Linked DNA regions of Homo sapiens. The protein of the gene in region 4 purifies or fractionates together with the protein of the main gene of each other region. This does not show direct contact. Each region holds a gene or a part of one and is shown on either strand. Other genes may lie near its edges.

The links. The genes of interacting proteins can lie anywhere in the genome.
Region 1: the proteins of VMP1 (region 4) and ALPL purify together in Homo sapiens (affinity purification with mass spectrometry; one large-scale study listed by BioGRID and IntAct). This does not show direct contact.
Region 2: the proteins of VMP1 (region 4) and TMOD1 purify together in Homo sapiens (affinity purification with mass spectrometry; one large-scale study listed by BioGRID and IntAct). This does not show direct contact.
Region 3: the proteins of VMP1 (region 4) and CAPZA1 purify together in Homo sapiens (affinity purification with mass spectrometry; one large-scale study listed by BioGRID and IntAct). This does not show direct contact.

Annotation. Positions count from the first base shown.
Region 1 is NC_000001.11:21,564,723-21,568,422, reverse strand, and holds part of ALPL (alkaline phosphatase, tissue-nonspecific isozyme isoform 1 preproprotein), read right to left. Parts: intron 320-3,700; coding exon 176-319; intron 1-175. UniProt on the Homo sapiens protein: Alkaline phosphatase that metabolizes various phosphate compounds and plays a key role in skeletal mineralization and adaptive thermogenesis.
Region 2 is NC_000009.12:97,560,466-97,564,165, forward strand, and holds part of TMOD1 (tropomodulin-1), read left to right. Parts: intron 1-2,266; coding exon 2,267-2,356; intron 2,357-3,572; coding exon 3,573-3,700. UniProt on the Homo sapiens protein: Blocks the elongation and depolymerization of the actin filaments at the pointed end. The Tmod/TM complex contributes to the formation of the short actin protofilament, which in turn defines the geometry of the membrane skeleton.
Region 3 is NC_000001.11:112,654,132-112,657,831, forward strand, and holds part of CAPZA1 (F-actin-capping protein subunit alpha-1), read left to right. Parts: intron 1-333; coding exon 334-540; intron 541-3,700. UniProt on the Homo sapiens protein: F-actin-capping proteins bind in a Ca(2+)-independent manner to the fast growing ends of actin filaments (barbed end) thereby blocking the exchange of subunits at these ends.
Region 4 is NC_000017.11:59,709,841-59,714,986, forward strand, and holds part of VMP1 (vacuole membrane protein 1), read left to right. Parts: intron 1-5,146. UniProt on the Homo sapiens protein: Phospholipid scramblase involved in lipid homeostasis and membrane dynamics processes. Has phospholipid scramblase activity toward cholesterol and phosphatidylserine, as well as phosphatidylethanolamine and phosphatidylcholine.

The DNA.
Region 1 (3,700 bases), on a different chromosome or scaffold from region 4:
AATGATTAGTCACTGACTATCTACTGCTTGTATATCTCTTAGGCCATTTGAGCCCATGGAGGAAAGATTTCCGATGCCCTTTCTACAGAGGACAACAGAACTTCAGAGCAGGGGTCACACAGCCTCTCCCCATCACAGGCCACCTCTGCAGCCACATGGCCCCAGCACAGGCTACCTTGTATCTCGGTTTGAAGCTCTTCCAGGTGTCAACGAGGTCCAGGCCGTCCAGCCTCGTGCCCCTGGCTTTCTCGTCACTCTCATACTCCACATCAGTTTTATTCTTGGGGTACATGTATTTCCGGCCACCCCCCATGATCACCTAAAAGAGACAGGAGCCATCACTTCTGCAGGGTTCCAAGATGCCCAGAAGCCCCAGTGACCTCGGCTTGGAACCTGGACTCCTGGAGTCCCTGGAGATGGTGTGGACACTTTCCCAGCCTGGTGAGCCAGGCCTCAGTCATCTCTGGGCCTTACTTGTCCAGCGTGGGGAGATGAAATCACGAGTCTATTGGGACGGTGGTTTGGCGCTTCTAGGGATATTGGAGGAGCTGATAACTTACCTTACTTGGCTTCCCGGAATCCACAGAACTCCCACTCGAATAAGAATCAGACCATTTACAGAGCGTTCCCTGTGTGTCAGGCACTAAGCATTTAAGATACATTCTGACTCAACTTCATACCAAGGCTGCAATAAACCCTGGCCACCTGTTTTCCAACTAAAAAAATGGGCACAGAAATTGGTTTTTTCCCCCGAAGGCCACAGAGCCAGGAAGTGGCAGCATCAGGATTCAAACCCAGGGCTTTTCCGGCTGTGGCACTAGGGCCCTGCTGTATTCGTGCAGCTAAGGGCAGGGACTCCCAGAGCCTCCTCTCCCACGGTGGAAGGCTGAATGCGTGCAGGGAGAGGCTCCAGCCAGGGAGGTCTTTGGGGCAGCCCACAGCTGGGAGCCAGCCCACCGCAGCCTGGGCAAACAGCGGGGCCGGGCCTCACGGCTCTGTAGTCACCACCAGGCTAATTTTACCCACCAGCTGGTGTGTGCGGGCAGACGGACGCGGGACTGTTTGTTTTCCTTGGGAGTCCATGTTTGAAGTTCTGACTATTTTTAAAGTAGGGCCAAGAGCATAACAGCAGCCGCCTGCGGTGACCACCACACTAGTGTTCTCTTGTCACCGCGGGTGCCAGCCCGGGCCACTGCCCCTGGCTGACACCTTGGGAGTGCAGAGCCTGGCTGACACTGGCCCCAGATCCACCATTCCAGGCCTGCATCTCATAGGTCCCTTGCTCTATCCTCCACTCTGTCTCCCACCTTAGATCCTAGGTTTTGTGGAATGCACAGGGGGCCAGGAACACAGGATGGCTGGAGAGGTGGGAAAGGTGCCCCAGGACCAGCCTGGGTCCAGGCCATGGTCATGGCCGTGAGCTTTGAAGTCAGACTTGGGTTTGAACCCTGACTCTATCGACTACTGACCAAGGGCCTGCCACCTAAACTCTGTGAGCCCAGTTTTCCTATCCATAAAATGCGACTGGCCAGGCGCGGTGGCTCATGCCTGTAATCCCAGCACTTTGGGAGGCTGAGGCGGGAGGATCACTTGATGCCAGGAGTTTGAGACCAGCCTGGACAACATGGCAAGACCCTGTCTATACAAATAAAATTTGTTTCGAAACTTAGCCGGGCATGGTGGTACAGGCTTGTGCTCCTAGCTATTCAAGGGACTGAGCCAGGAGGAGCACTTGAGCCCAGGAGGCTGAGACTGAAGTGAGCCATGATCACGCCACTGCACTCCAGCCTGGGCAACAGAGTGAGACCCTGTCTCAAAAATAAAATAAAATAGGCCGGGCGCGATGGCTCACGCCTATAATGCCAGCACTTTGGGAGGCCAAAACGGGCGGATCACCTGAGGTCCAGAGTTTGAGACCAGCCTGGCCAACATGGCGAAACCCCGTCTCTACTAAAAATTTAAAAAAAAAAAATTAGCCGGGCGTGGTGATGTGCGCCTATAATCCCAGCTACTCAGGAGGCTGAGGCAGGACAATCGCTTGAACCCGGGAGGTGAAGGCTGCAGTGAGCCAAGATCGCACCACTACACTCCAGCCTTAGAGACAGAATGAGACTCCGTCTCAAAATAATAATAATAAATAAAATGCAACTAACATCCATCCACAGACCCATCACAGGAGGAAAGGCAGTCACCCAGGGAAGTCCCCAGCACCCAGGGGGTGGCTGCCACTGGAAGGCATTTCTATTGCCAGAAGGAGTGGGGAAACAAGTGGTTCAGAGAGGCAGAGTCCTTGCTCTCAGCTGCAGCCAGGAGCTCAGGGGGCAGGGTGGGCTGGGAGAAGAAGGAGAAGGGGACCCCAGGTCACGGGTCCCTTGCCCCGCCCCCCACAACTGTTCCCACAGAACCTGACCTCTTGGCATCTTCAGAGTGGAAAACGAAGCCCCCAATCTTCCTGCAGGGAGCCTCATCGTTTCCAGCCCGGCAGCGACTTCACACGGGCTCATTAAACTCCCAAATAACAGACTTGCTGTTTGGCTTTGGGGTTTAGGTTTGTGTCTTTCTTTCTTTCTTTCTCTTCTTTCTTTTTTTTTTTTAAGCAACAGTATTTATTTTCAGGGTGGACACCAGGATTTTTGTTTCATGTACAGTCTGGGGACTGGGAGGCTTTTGGGGGGGTGGTGACGGAGAGGCAGGTGGGGCTGGGAGAGAAAGGAAGAGGAGGAAAGAAAGGGATCCTCACACAGGTCCTCCGTCCTCACTCACTCCCTGGCTTGTGCCCCTTGACGTGGCCCCTGCGGCCCCCCCTCCTCATCTCCCACCCCCTCACCTGAAACATCTTCCCTCCCCTCGAATTTCCTTCAAGTTCCTGTCCCCTGCTCAGGCTGTCCCTGACAAACCCCTCTGAGGAGCAGTCCCCATGTAATTATACCCTGTGCCTGTACAACAAATGTTCTCACATCCATGACCTCATCACGGCCTCCCACGGCCCTGGGAGCAAGCAAGTGTGGCTCTCTGTTTCTGCTGCACAGGTGGGGAAACTGAGGCATAGGGAGGGGAAGGAACTCGCCCCAGGCCACATGTCGGGTGAAGGCAAGCCAGGATGAGTGGCTTGGCCTCAGATGTCTGTTCAGTGAAAGGGGCCAACAGCACTGTGTGTCCTGAAAGCGGGTACTTAATCCACCATGCTGGGAAAAGGGCAGACGTGGGTCTCTACTGTGGAGGGGCCAAGTAGCCCCCAGAAATTTGTGGGGGGCAGTGCATGGAGGGCTGAAGGCAGGTGAGTTTGTCTGGTGGTGGAGAGAAAGAGGTGAGGTGTAGCTGGGCAGGGGGGCTTTCTCTGCCCCTCACCGAATCCCCATTCCAGGCTCAAGGGGCAGAAGTCCCCAGATCGCCTCAGCAGTCCCCCACAGTAGGCAATAAAAGCCTGAAAAGGAACGAGCCGGGCATTCTCACTTAAGAACAGAGAGTAAGCGTCACATGGATGACTTCTGTCTCCATGAGTCAGCTCAGTTTGTTGAAGTGTGTTTCAGGGCAAGGACATGTGGCTCCTGCGTAAGTGCCACCACCTTCTGGGCACTCGCTAGGCCTCGGGTCCTGTGCTGAGCTCCACAGGGATTATCTTAATCAGTTCTTGGCATAAGCTTATGAGGCAGGTACAGTTCACAAAGGAGTTGTGAAAGGGAAGCCTCAGAGAGGTTAA
Region 2 (3,700 bases), on a different chromosome or scaffold from region 4:
AATGGGGCGTACTTAGCTAAAAAAAAATCTGGTGTTGGCCGGGCGAGGTGGCTCACGCCTGCAATCCCAGCACTTTGGGAGGTCAAGGTGGTGGATCAAGAAGTCAGGAGTTCAAGACCAACCTGGCCAAGTTGGTGAAACCCTGTCTTTACTAAAAATACAAAAATTAGCCGGACGACAAAAAATACAATATTTTTTGTATTGTATATATATATATATAAAGTATTTATATATTGTATATATAAAAAATACAAAAATTACAGGATGACACTCCTGTAATCCCAGCTACTCGGGAGGCTGAGGCAGAGAATTCCTTAAATCTGGGAGGTGGAGTTTACTGTGAGCCGAGATCTCGCCACTGCACTCCAGCCTGGGCAACAGAGCGAGACTCCATCTCAAAAAAAAAAATTTGTTGTTTATCTAAAATTCCAAGTCAAGTGGGTGCAGAGAATCACCAGCAGAAGGGAGAGTACTAGCAAAAGCAGGAGCAGCTATGAGCAGGGGCTGTTTGTGTAGCTGGAGCAGAGAAGCTGTTGGGAGGGGGAGTGCAACAACACTGGTGAGGTGGGGCCAGCCCAGGGAAGGCCTGTGAAGCCAGGCTCTGGGTTTGGATTTGGCTGTACAAGCCACTGTCCTCCCATCTGGACAGCTGCAACAGCCTCACAGCTCTGCAGCCACATCCATCTCTCCCCTCTGTAGTGAGTTCTCAACACAATAATCAGAACTCAGGTCAGACCATCTCACTTCCTGCTCAAGCCTCTAATGGCTTCCCAGGCTGTTCCTAGGAAAAGACACCCGAACTCCTTACTCAGCCTAGAAGACCCTGTAGAATCTGACCTTGCCTAGGTGAATAAAATCTACTCCAGAGGGTTATTGGGCAGATCAAGGAGGGGAGTGTCAGGCAATGGTTCTCAACCTTGGCTGCTCATTGAAACCATCCAGGGAGCTTTAAAAATGCAGGTGCCTGAGCTCCACCCCCAGATATTTTGGGTTAATTGGTCTAGGGTGGGACTGGGCATCAGGAATTTCAACAGATCCCCAGGTGATTCCAGTGTGCAGCCAAATTGGGAATGATGGATACAAAGTGTCTTCCCTGGCCCAGAGCATGTGCTCAGTGAGAGGGGTGGTGTTGCCATGCGTCTGATTATTACCGCCACACATCCAGCTTCTATCCTGTTTCCCCCAGCAGTGATTGTCACAGCTGTGTCATCACTGGTGTCCTGGCCTTGGCCTCTTCCTACTCTCCACCTCCCAACATGCAGCACAGAGCAGCTGGAAAGGTCTTTCCTGAAATGCCAACCTGACCTTCCTCCCTCACTGGCCTGCCACTCTCTGAACCTCGAGGCTTTCCCACCTGCATTCCTCTGCCTGTAATGTTCTATAGCCCTTCTCTTAACTTGACCAACACTTACTCCTCCTTTGCATCCCAAGTTCCTCTTTTATGCTGTCTTAGGACTGAACTTTTTCCTCTACCACACTCAGCATACCCTGTGCTGGTTTTTCATTGTGTGGGAACTTGCTTGGCTCCTCTCTCCCCCAGCACACTTTCAGCTCCATGAGCGGAGACCCAGTCTTTCTTATTCTCCACTGTCCCCACCAGAGCCTAGCACACAGTGCTGGGGTGGGCCTCATTACATGTTGAACAAATGAATGGATGAAAGAATGGCTGAGCACGGGAGCAATAAGATCAGGTTGGCATTTCCAGAAAGAGCTTTCCAGCTGCTTTGTGCTGCATGCTGGGAGGTAGAGGGAAGGAAGAGGCCAAGACCAAGACACCCGTGATGACACAGCTGTGACAATACAGCCAAAGAATGATCAGGCCTCCATTAGGATGGAGATGATGGGATGGGAGGGGGACAGATCTCAGAGACACTGGGATGGTCAAATGGGCTTATGGGGAGAAGGTGCCACATTCCCTGATGTTTTACCCTGAGGGACAGGCAGGATGACAAGATGGAAAGAGAGCCTTCCAAAGAAAGAGGCTGTCACTGGAAAGAGCCATTCTGGTTTGGCCACGTTGAGCTGGATGTGCCAGCAGGACATCAGGGAATCAGAGGCCAGGGGCAGAGCAGCCTGGGCTGGGGCTGGGGATTTCAGAGTCACATCAATAGAGGTGAGAGTAAAAGTAAAATAAAATTTTGAAGTTTTCATGCAAGTGTTTCTTGCCATTTCTGTGAGCCAGAGTTCCCGGGGTTTGGAGTGTGGGTCCCTAGGAGGCTCTTCTGTCTGCAGAGGCACATCATGAGCCCTTCCCTTGTCCCTGCAGCGATCCTGGGCATGCACACGCTCATGAGTAACCAGCAGTACTACCAGGCCCTGAGCAGCAGCTCCATCATGAACAAGGAGGGGCTCAACAGTGAGTATGCGCCCGCCCCCAGGAGGGACCTCATGCTTCTTGCTTCCTCCACTCACTGATGTTCTCTGGCTCATTGCAGAAGTTTTAACATGTTATATAGCCAAATCTGTTCATCCTTTCCTTTGAGTCTCCTGGGATTTGTGTCTTGTTTACAAAGGCCTTCTCTATCCCAGTATTATAGAAATGTTCTCCTATATTTTCTTCTAAAAGTTTTAGAGATTTACTTTTTATATTCAACTTTTTCTTTTTTTAGACAGGGTCTTGCTCTGTCAGCCAGGCTGGAGTGCATTGGCACAATCTTGACACACTGCAGCCTGGACCTCCTGGGCTTAAGCGATCCTCCCACCTCTGCCTCCTGAGTAGCTGAGGCTACAGGTGTATGCCAGCATGCCTGGCTAATTTTGTTTATTTTGTATGGAGATGAGGTCACACCATTGCCCAGACTGGTCTCGAACTCCTGGACTCAAGCAATCCTCCTGCCTCAGCCTCCCAAAGTGCTGGGATTACAGGCATGAGCCACCACACCTGGCCTTATATTCAACTTCTTAATCTACCTGGAGTTCATGTTTGTGTGTGCTGTGGGATGAGACCAAACTTTCATTTTTTCGAATTAATATCCAGTGGTCCCAACACCATTCCTTGCAAGATTTATCCTTTCCCCACTAGTTTGGGGCCTGCCTTTATCATCCACATGGATCTGTTTCTAGGTGCCTCCTCTGTTTCATGAGCCCTTTTGTCCTTTCCTGTGCCAATATTGCATTGCCTTAATTACTCCACTGCATTGTTCCAAAGCTGGCATTTTGGCCCCAAACAGAAATGAGGCTGCCAAAAAAAATAATTATTCCTCCCTCTGGAAGATTGATGCATTTCTTTCCCATCCGGGCTTCATCTTAGCCTCCCAAGAGTCCACTGAGGTCATGAGCCCCGGGAAAATGACTAGCCCTGCCTTACAGATGTAGACCCAAGGTTCAGAGAGTTTAAGTAATTCACCCAGTTCTTGCAGGACGTCAAAGGCAGAGTCCAAGTAGAACCCCAGCCTCCTGGCTCCCTTGCGGGGCTTCTTCTGAGTGGTGCCCCCTACCCCCACCCAGCCCCTGTGATGTGCAGCCCTCACGTGCCCCAACCCTGCACATGCTCCCTTCCACAGTATCTTTGTGTTGGCAGAAAGTGAGCCCCTTGTTTCTGTGAGCCACCTCCCTTTCATCGGTCACTCTAGGCGTGATTAAACCCACACAATACAAGCCTGTGCCCGACGAAGAACCAAATTCAACAGACGTAGAGGAAACGCTGGAACGGATAAAGAACAACGACCCAAAACTTGAAGAAGTTAACCTCAATAATATC
Region 3 (3,700 bases), on a different chromosome or scaffold from region 4:
TAATGACTCTGGAAAAATATGTGAAAAAAATACAAAAGTGTACATAAAAGTTATTACAGCTATGTATAAAGTACATATATAGTTATGTATAAGTATATATTAGAAACCAAGAAATGAATATTATTAGTATGGGGGATATTTTGTAGTTTAAAGTTGACTTATTCATAAATACAATATTCTTAATAATACGGGACTTGGTTGAAAAATTAATATGAAAGAAATCTGACTAAATGAAAAGTTAACTGCCTCAGAATTTTTATTGATGTGTTTCATAAAAGGCAGTAAGAATTGTCTTTTTTACAGTTACTCATATGTTTAATGATTCTTTGGAAGGTCTTAATTACAGAGCACGGTGACCTGGGTAATAGCAGATTTTTAGATCCAAGAAACAAAATTTCCTTTAAATTTGACCACTTACGGAAAGAAGCAAGTGACCCCCAGCCAGAAGAAGCAGATGGAGGTCTGAAGTCTTGGAGAGAATCCTGTGACAGTGCTTTAAGAGCCTATGTGAAAGACCATTATTCCAACGGCTTCTGTACTGTTAAGTATCTGACTGCTTCGTTATCAGAGAGTGTTTTCTTATATTTACCTTATCCTTTGGAGGCTTTGGCCTACCAAACATCCCTACTTTCTTCTTAGCCATGCTCTCTTCTCCTCTGCATTTTATTCCCTAAATCATTTTGGAAAGGGGTATAAATGAAATTTTTATATGGAAAATTTCTTTTTAAAATCCCAATGCACAAAAAATTTAGGTATCAGTGTATTCTGTTTTCACATTTGACTTATGAAAAATGCCTTACACCCATCAGAAAAAGGTCTTTGGTTTTTCTTTTTTTCTTTCTTTTTTTTAAATTAACCTTTTAAATTAATTTTTTTTTGTTTGTATTTTTACCCAGATCTAAAAGGTCTTTGGTTTGGACATGGAGAAAAAAATGGTATACTAAGATTGTTGAGAGAGCTTTTGCTCATATTTATGGCTTTTTGATATAGGCATTTTTACACAAACTACTTCTACATAGTTTAGATGTTTATATTCAGTAATCAAAACTATTAGAACTAAACAATTGGCTGGACATGGTGGCTCATGCCTGTAATCCCAGCACTTTGGGAGGCCAAGGTGGGCAGATCACTTGAGGCCAGGAGTTCGAGACCAGCCTGGCCAACATGGTGAAACCTTTACTTAAAAAATACAAAAAGTAGCTGGATGTGGTGGTGCACACCTGTAGTTTCAGCTACTCAGGAGGCTGAGGCACAAGAATCACTTGAACCAGGGAGGTGGAGGTTGCAGTGAGCTGAGACCACACCACTGCATTCCAGCCTGGGCAACAGAGTGAGACACTGTCTCAAAAAAACAAAAAACAAAAAAAACCAAACAATTTTTTTTTAATCAGGAGTGATTTTCTTTTTGTTGTTGTTTTTGCTGTTGTTGTTGTTGTTCTTTTGTTTTTTGAGACTAAGTCTTACTCTGTCACCCAGGCTAGAATGCAGGGGCACCGTGTCAGCTCAATGTCACCTCCATCTCCTGGGTTCAAGCAATTCTCCTGCCTCAGCTTCCTGAGTAGCTGGGATTACGGGTGCCCACCACCACACCTGGCTAATTTTTATATTTTTAGTAGAGACAGAGCTTCACCATGTTGGCCAGGCTGGTCTCGAACTCCTAACATCAGGTGATCCAGCTGCCTCGGACTCCCAAAGTGCTGGGATTACAGGCGTGAGCTGCTGCACCTGGCCTAATTTTCTTTTACTCCCTCTTGACTGTAAAAATAGATAAATTTGGCTTTATTATTTTTCCTTTATAAAATTATGGCATATTAAGAAAAATATTGATTAGAATATTTTTTATTTTTAAATTGACAAAAATATGATATGTACAACATGATATTTTGAAATATGTATACATTGTGGAATGGCTATATTGAGCTAATAACATGGATTTCTATACATATTTATCATTTTTTTGTTGTGGGAAAATCAGCAATTTTCACTAGAATATTTTAAATATACAATGATGATGAATTACATGGCAGTCTAGAATACAGTTAAGAGCACCTACTTTGAAGCCTTACTAACTGGTTTGATTCCTGGCCCTGCCAATTAATTAGTTGTGTGACCTTAGGTAAATTACTTAACATCTCTGTGCCTCAATTCTTTGACTGTAAAATGGAAATAATTGTTTTTATCTCATAGAGTTGTTGTGAAGATTTAATGAATTAGTAATATATGTAATATATGCCTGGAACAGTGCCTGGCACAAAGTAAGCTCTACATAAATGTTAGATGAATGTTAGGCTAGGTGTCATTATGTTTGATTTTTTTTTTTTTTTTTTTTTTTTTTAATGAGAATACCCATTATGGTGGACTGGACAAGTATAGAATTCCTGTTGGGAAGCCAGTATTGCAAAGGGGAGACATGATAGACTCCCATTTAGAAATTGACTGTTTAATCCTAAATATACTTTGAATTTATTGTTTGTTACCTGTTCAAAGTTTGTCACTACCCATTCTTAATTTGGAGAGCTCCAGCACCAAATAACCCTACTGTGTCCTTAGCTATCAAATGACCTACAGAAAGTCATGGAATTGTTGTGATGGTGTCTGCTGTATATAAGTATCCTATGTCTTATGTCTTCAGCTGACCTGCTTAGTAGTCCGTAATTTCATCTCCTTATTCCCTATCACATTTTCTACATAGTATGTTCCAAACATTTTTCATTGTCCTCTGACAGGCATCTAATCCCCCATGTTTTGTAAGGATTGAAACTGACAGAAATTTTTTTTTTTTTTTTTTGAGACAGAGTCTCACTCTGTCTTCCAAGCTGGAGTGCAATGGTGTGGTCTCGGCTCACTGCAACCTCCCCTTCCTGGGTTCAAGCGATTCTCCTGCCTCAGCCTCCTGAGTAGCTGGAATTACAGGCGCCTGCCACCACACCTGGCTAATTTTTGTATTTTTAGTAGAGACGGGGTTTCACTGTGTTGGCCAGGCTGGTCTTGAACTCCTGACCTTGTAATCCGTTCGCCTCAGCTTCCCAAGTAGCTAGGACCACAGGTGCACACCACCATACCTATCTAATTTTTCTCTGTGTGTGTTGTGTGTGTGTAGGGACTACAAGGCATGAGCCACCAGGCCCGGCCTATTTCTCCTTCTTTGTCTGCCCTTTCCACCTTGCCCTTTCTCCCTCTTCTCCACTTTTTCCCTTCTCTCATCTCTCTCTGCATCACCACCACGTCAGTACATATTCTTTGCCTGCTAATGCCATTTCCTCTATCTACTTCTGAACCCTTTAATTTTTTACTTTAGTCTCCATTCTACAGAAACTGCTCTGAGTTTACTAATGGTTCCTGAGTTACCTGGTCCAGTGTCCTTTTCCTTGTCCATGACTTCCGAATGGCATTTCACACTGAAGCCAATCAACCACTTCTAGAAATTATCTTTTACTTAGGCTGCTGTCAGCAACCCCTAATTCTTTTTTTTTTTTAGAGATGGAGTTTTGCTCTTTTTGCCCAGGCTGGCGTACAGTGGCATGATCTCAGCTCACTGCAACCTCCGCCTCTCAGGTTCAAGCGATTTTCCTGCCTCAGCCTCTCTAGTAGTTGGGATTACAGGTGCCCACCACCACACCTGGCTAATTTTTGTATTTTTAGTAGAGATGGGGTTTCACCATGTTGGCCGGGCTGGTCTTGAACTCCTGACCTCAGGTAA
Region 4 (5,146 bases):
TTTGCCTACGTATAGTTAACTAAAGAGTAGAAGTAGTCCTATCTTACTTACATTAAATAAGAAACCTTATTATTGGGCCGGGCGCGGTGGTTCACGCTTGTAATCCCAGCACTTTGGGAGGCCGAGTTGGGCGGATCACGAGGTCAGGCGATCGAGACAATCCTGGCTAATACAGTGAAACCCTGTCTCTACTAAAAATACAAAAAATTAGCCGGGCGTGGTGGCAGGCGCCTGTAATCCCAGCTACTCCGGAGGCTGAGGCAGGAGAATGGCGCGAACCCAGGAGGCGGAGCTTGCAGTGAGCCGAGATTGCGCCACTGCACTCCAGCCTGGGAGACAGAGCCAGACTCCGTCTCAAAAAAAAAAGAAACATTATTATTTCACTGAAACCAATATTTAGAATTAGAAGGAATCTCTGTGAATGTATAAGTAGATTCCCATTTAACAGAGGAGAAAATTAAGGCTCAGAAACAATCAGTAATTAGTAATTGGCTTGCTTGAGGTCATCTGGCTTAGGTAGTGCTAGAACCTGAACTGTAAGGTCTCAAGTGTTCTTTCTGTTCTAACAAGGTTGTATCCAGGCATCTTATTATGGTTTGGTAATATTTCCAAGTTCACATGAAAATAATTACTCTTAGGTATTAAAGGGATCTATCCACATACACACGTAAATACACACATACGCACATAAGCCTTATTTACAAACTTTTTTTCCCTCTTTAGCTAGTTTAGTCTTATAAATTGTAGCATAACAAAAACTGTGCTTGGCTAGATTTGAAGTGTAATAGATTAAGGAAAGAAAATCAGTTATATTCTTCAGAATAGTTTGTCTGAGTTCATGCTTCATGACTGTCATGTGTTGAGTTATCTTTCTGGCAAGTGGAAATGACGGAGGAGCCTTAACACGTGTCTACTGTGAATGTTGTTGCTAAAGAGTAGGAGAGAACTGGCCAGGCGCCGTGGCTCACGCCTGTAATCCCAGCACTTTGGGAGGCCGAGGCGGGAAGATCACCTGAGATCAGGAGTTTGAGACTAGCCTGTCTAACATGGTGAAACCCGGTGTCTACAAAAAATACAAAAAAATTAGCTGGGTGTGGTGGCAGACGCCTGTAATCCCAGCTACTCAGGAGGCTGAGGCATGAGAATCGTTTGAACCCGGGAGGCGGAGGTTGCAGTGAGCCGAGATCGCGCCACTGCACTCCAGCCTGGACAACAGAGCGAGACTCCATCTCAAAAAAAAAAGAGAAGAAAATAAAAGAAAAGCAGTAGGAGAGAACTGTATTATTTGCTCTTACAAAAAAAAAAACCTCCCCAAGCTGTTTGTAATTTTAATATTTTGTTATGTTAATTATCTATTATATATAGAGCCATTTCTCTAGTTATTTTATTCTGGGTAAATAGCCATTGTAGAAGAGTTAATTCTTTGCATTGTTGGGTACTCTTTTTTTTTGGTTCCATTGATTTAACAAACTTTTTAGTCTCTTTAGTCTTTCTCGGAGATGATAGTTCTAGGTGCTACTGTCATTCCTGTTTTTGCCCAAGTGCCCTTGCTGTGTCTCCCATTTTGGTGTGGAAATGAACTCTAGATTAGAGAATCCTAATAAACAGGACAAATTGAAGTGATAACTTTGTCGTGGTTTTGTAAATTGTTACTCTGCTTTCACAAAGCCTTGCAAATATTTTGAGGAATAGTAAATTGCTAAGAGCATATTGCCTCAAGAAATTCCTTATTTTATATGGGAAAGCAGCTTTGGATGGAGTTTGCTGAACTGAAGTTAGGTATTATGTAGGCCCTTATATAAAGCTTATTTTAAAATATGCTCCTTGATTTGCAGCATCAAGGAAATTTGAACAGGAGATAATTTTCTGTGTCAGATAAAAGGTGATACTTAAAGTTTAAGGCATATTTAAATTAAGCAAGGGCAATCTATTGAGTAATTATATCACAGCTAATATACCTATAATTGCTCAAGAGTTTGTTTGTATTCTTGAACTACTTAATCTTTTCAGTAGTTCATGGGAGTATTTTCTCTTGTCCTTGAGTTTTTTAATGATAACTTTGTTCTTTATAGATTACCTGGAAGGACTAGGCAGGTAGTGTTAAAAGCCAGGGCTATAAAGCTAGACTGCTTTTTTTCAAATTCTAGCTCTATTACTATGCAACTCTTGGATTAGTTACTTTTTACTTCTTGCTATCTCAGTTTCCTCCTGGACAATGAAGTCAATACCCTTCTTGTTAGGATTGAATGAATAGGTTTAAATAAAGCATTTAGAACAGTGTCTGTAGCATATAGTTAACCATGATTGTGATCATTATCATCATGTGGCCCCCTAAGCTATTGCCAAGAACTCTTTCCCAGCCCTCTTTTAAAAGCATAGCTTTATGTTGCTGCTTACTTAATTATTGTTTGCTCATTATTAATGAAGTTCCAGTAAATAAATATCTGAGTATACACTTCACTTTGTCTATATTTTACAACATATGTGAGATTCTTAACCAAATGAGGCATTCTTTTGGGCCATTCTGTTAACTTTTTGGTATTAACAGACTACATTATCTGTGTAAGCCATAACACAGAATTTGGCAATTGAAACTTTTGATGTTTCATGATGTCTTTTAGCACTTTCTTGGAATGGAAAGATCATTTTCCAGTGACATCTATTGCCTTATCTGTTCATTATCCAGTCAGTGAACAAACATTTTGTGTCCCAGGCCTTACACCAGGTTCTGGGGAAAACAATGGGAAATAAGAATTGTTAGGAAGGCAGCACATGAGGGTCTAAGAGAGAGTTAACAATGTGGATATATGCTTATTTGAGGCTGGAGCATAATAGACTTGGAATACATTGACATGAGATGATATAGGAAATATATACAGGATCCAGGTCATGCAGAATTTTGCAGGCCAAGGGAATGAGTTTGAATTTGATTTTGAGTGCAGTAGGAAATCATTCTACAATTTTAAGTAGAGGAGTAATAGGATTTATAAGAAGTTCATTGTTGTTCATGTGTGAAGGATGAATTGAAGCGGGCAAGAACAGAAATGGAGAGAGAAGTTGAGAGTCCACTGCATAGTCCAAGAAGAAGATGAAGATGGTCTGGACTAGAAGGGTAGCAAAGAAGATGGACAGTTGTGTGTGGATACCAAATATATTTGGTATAGGACTTGGTCCTGGGTTAGATGAGTGGTAAGAAAAAGGGAAGTGTCAGGGATGACTAAGCTTCTGGATTTAGTGACTGGGTGGGTGGTTGTGCCAGGTACTGGGAGAAGGGAGGTTTGGAGAAGACCAGGTTTGTTTGTTACAAGAAGGTGGGTAGGTGTAGGGAGAAAAGGACATGTTAATTTTGAGACACTTAAAGAATCATCTATGGACACAGGAGGGGGGACATCACACACCGGGGCCTGTTGTGGGTTGGGGGAAGGAGGGAGGGATAGCATTAGGAGATATACCTAATGTAAATGACGAGTTAATAGGTGCAGCACACCAACATGGCACATGTATACATATGTAACAAACCTGCACATTGTGCACATGTACCCTAGAACTTAAAGTATAATAATAATAATAATAATAAATCATCCAAGTCACGCACTTACATATATAAATCTAGAGGTCAAAACCAGAAATACAAATACGGGATAGTATTTTCAACCATGGACCAGATGAGTCACCTGGGGAGATAGGGAGAGGAGAGGGCCAAGGGCAGGTAAAAGAAAGATCTGGGCTGGATGCAGTGGCTCACTCCTGTAATCCCAGAACTTTGGGAGGCTGAGGTGGGTGGATCGCTTGAGTCCAGGAGTTCGAGACCAGCCTGGACAACATGGCAAAACCCCATCTCTCTTTTTTTTTTTTTTTTTTTGTTAAAAAAAAGAGAGACTTTTTTTTTTAACAAAACGGAGACTAAGAAGGTATCTTAGGGCTGGGCACAATGGTTCACACCTGTAATCCCAACACTGAGAGGCCAAGGTGCGCAGATCACTTGAGGTCAAGAGTTCAAGATCAGCCTGGCCAACATGGTGAGACCCCATCTCTACTAAAAATACAAAAATTAGCTGGGCGTGGTGGTGGGCACCTGTAATCCCCACTGCTAGGGAGGCTGAGGCATTAGAATCGCTTGAACCCGGGAGGCAGAGGTTGCAGTGAGCCAAGATCGTGCCACTGCACTCCAACCTGCGCAACTGAGCGAGACTCCGTCTTAAAAGGAAAAAAAAAAAAAAAAAAAAAGAAGGTTTCTTAGTCCGTTTTCTGTTGCTTATACCAGAATACCCGAAACTGGGTAATTTATAAAGAAAAGGAATTTAATTTTTATAGCCGTGGAAGCTGAAAAGTTCAAGATCGAGTGGCCACATTGGGTAAGGGCCTTCTTGCTGGAGGGACTCTGCAGAGTGCCGAGAGTATCACATGGAGGGGGAGCTGAGTGTGCAAGCTCAGTTCTCTTTTTCTCTGCTTATAAAGCAACCAGTCCTACCCCCATGATAACCCATTAATCCATTAACCCATTAATTTATGAATGGATTAATTCATTCATAAGGGCAGAGCCTCCGTGACCCAATCACCTCTTAAAGGCCTTGTCTCACTCTACTGCCACATTAGGGGTTAAATTTTAACATGAGTTTTGGAGGGGACACATACTCAAACAATAATAGGAGTGTTTGAAAGAAGAAAGGTCAGATACACAAAACTAATAAAAGTGGTTACATCTAGCAGGGAGAGTGGGGAGCAAGGTTTTTCACCTTTTTCAAATGTATATATATAATTATTTTAAAGCACATGAAAGTTGTTCTTGCGTTTTTGTTTTTGTTTTTGGTGGGGGGTGGGGGCGGTGCAGGGAGAGGGCTTTGAGCCAGGATCTCTGTCACCCAGGCTAGATTGTTAGATTGCAGTGGCACGATCACAGCTCTCTGCAACCTTGACCTCCTAGGCTCAAGCAATCCTCCCACCTCAGCCCCCTGAGTACCTGGGACCACAGATACCATGAGGTGCATGCCACCACACAGGAGTAATTTTTTAATTTTTTTGGTAGGGATGGGGTCTTGTTATGTTGCCCAGGCTGGTCTTGAACTCTGGCACTCAAGTGATCCTCTCACCTTGGCATCCCAATGTGCTGGGATTACAAGCATGAACCGCTGTGCCTGGCCTATTT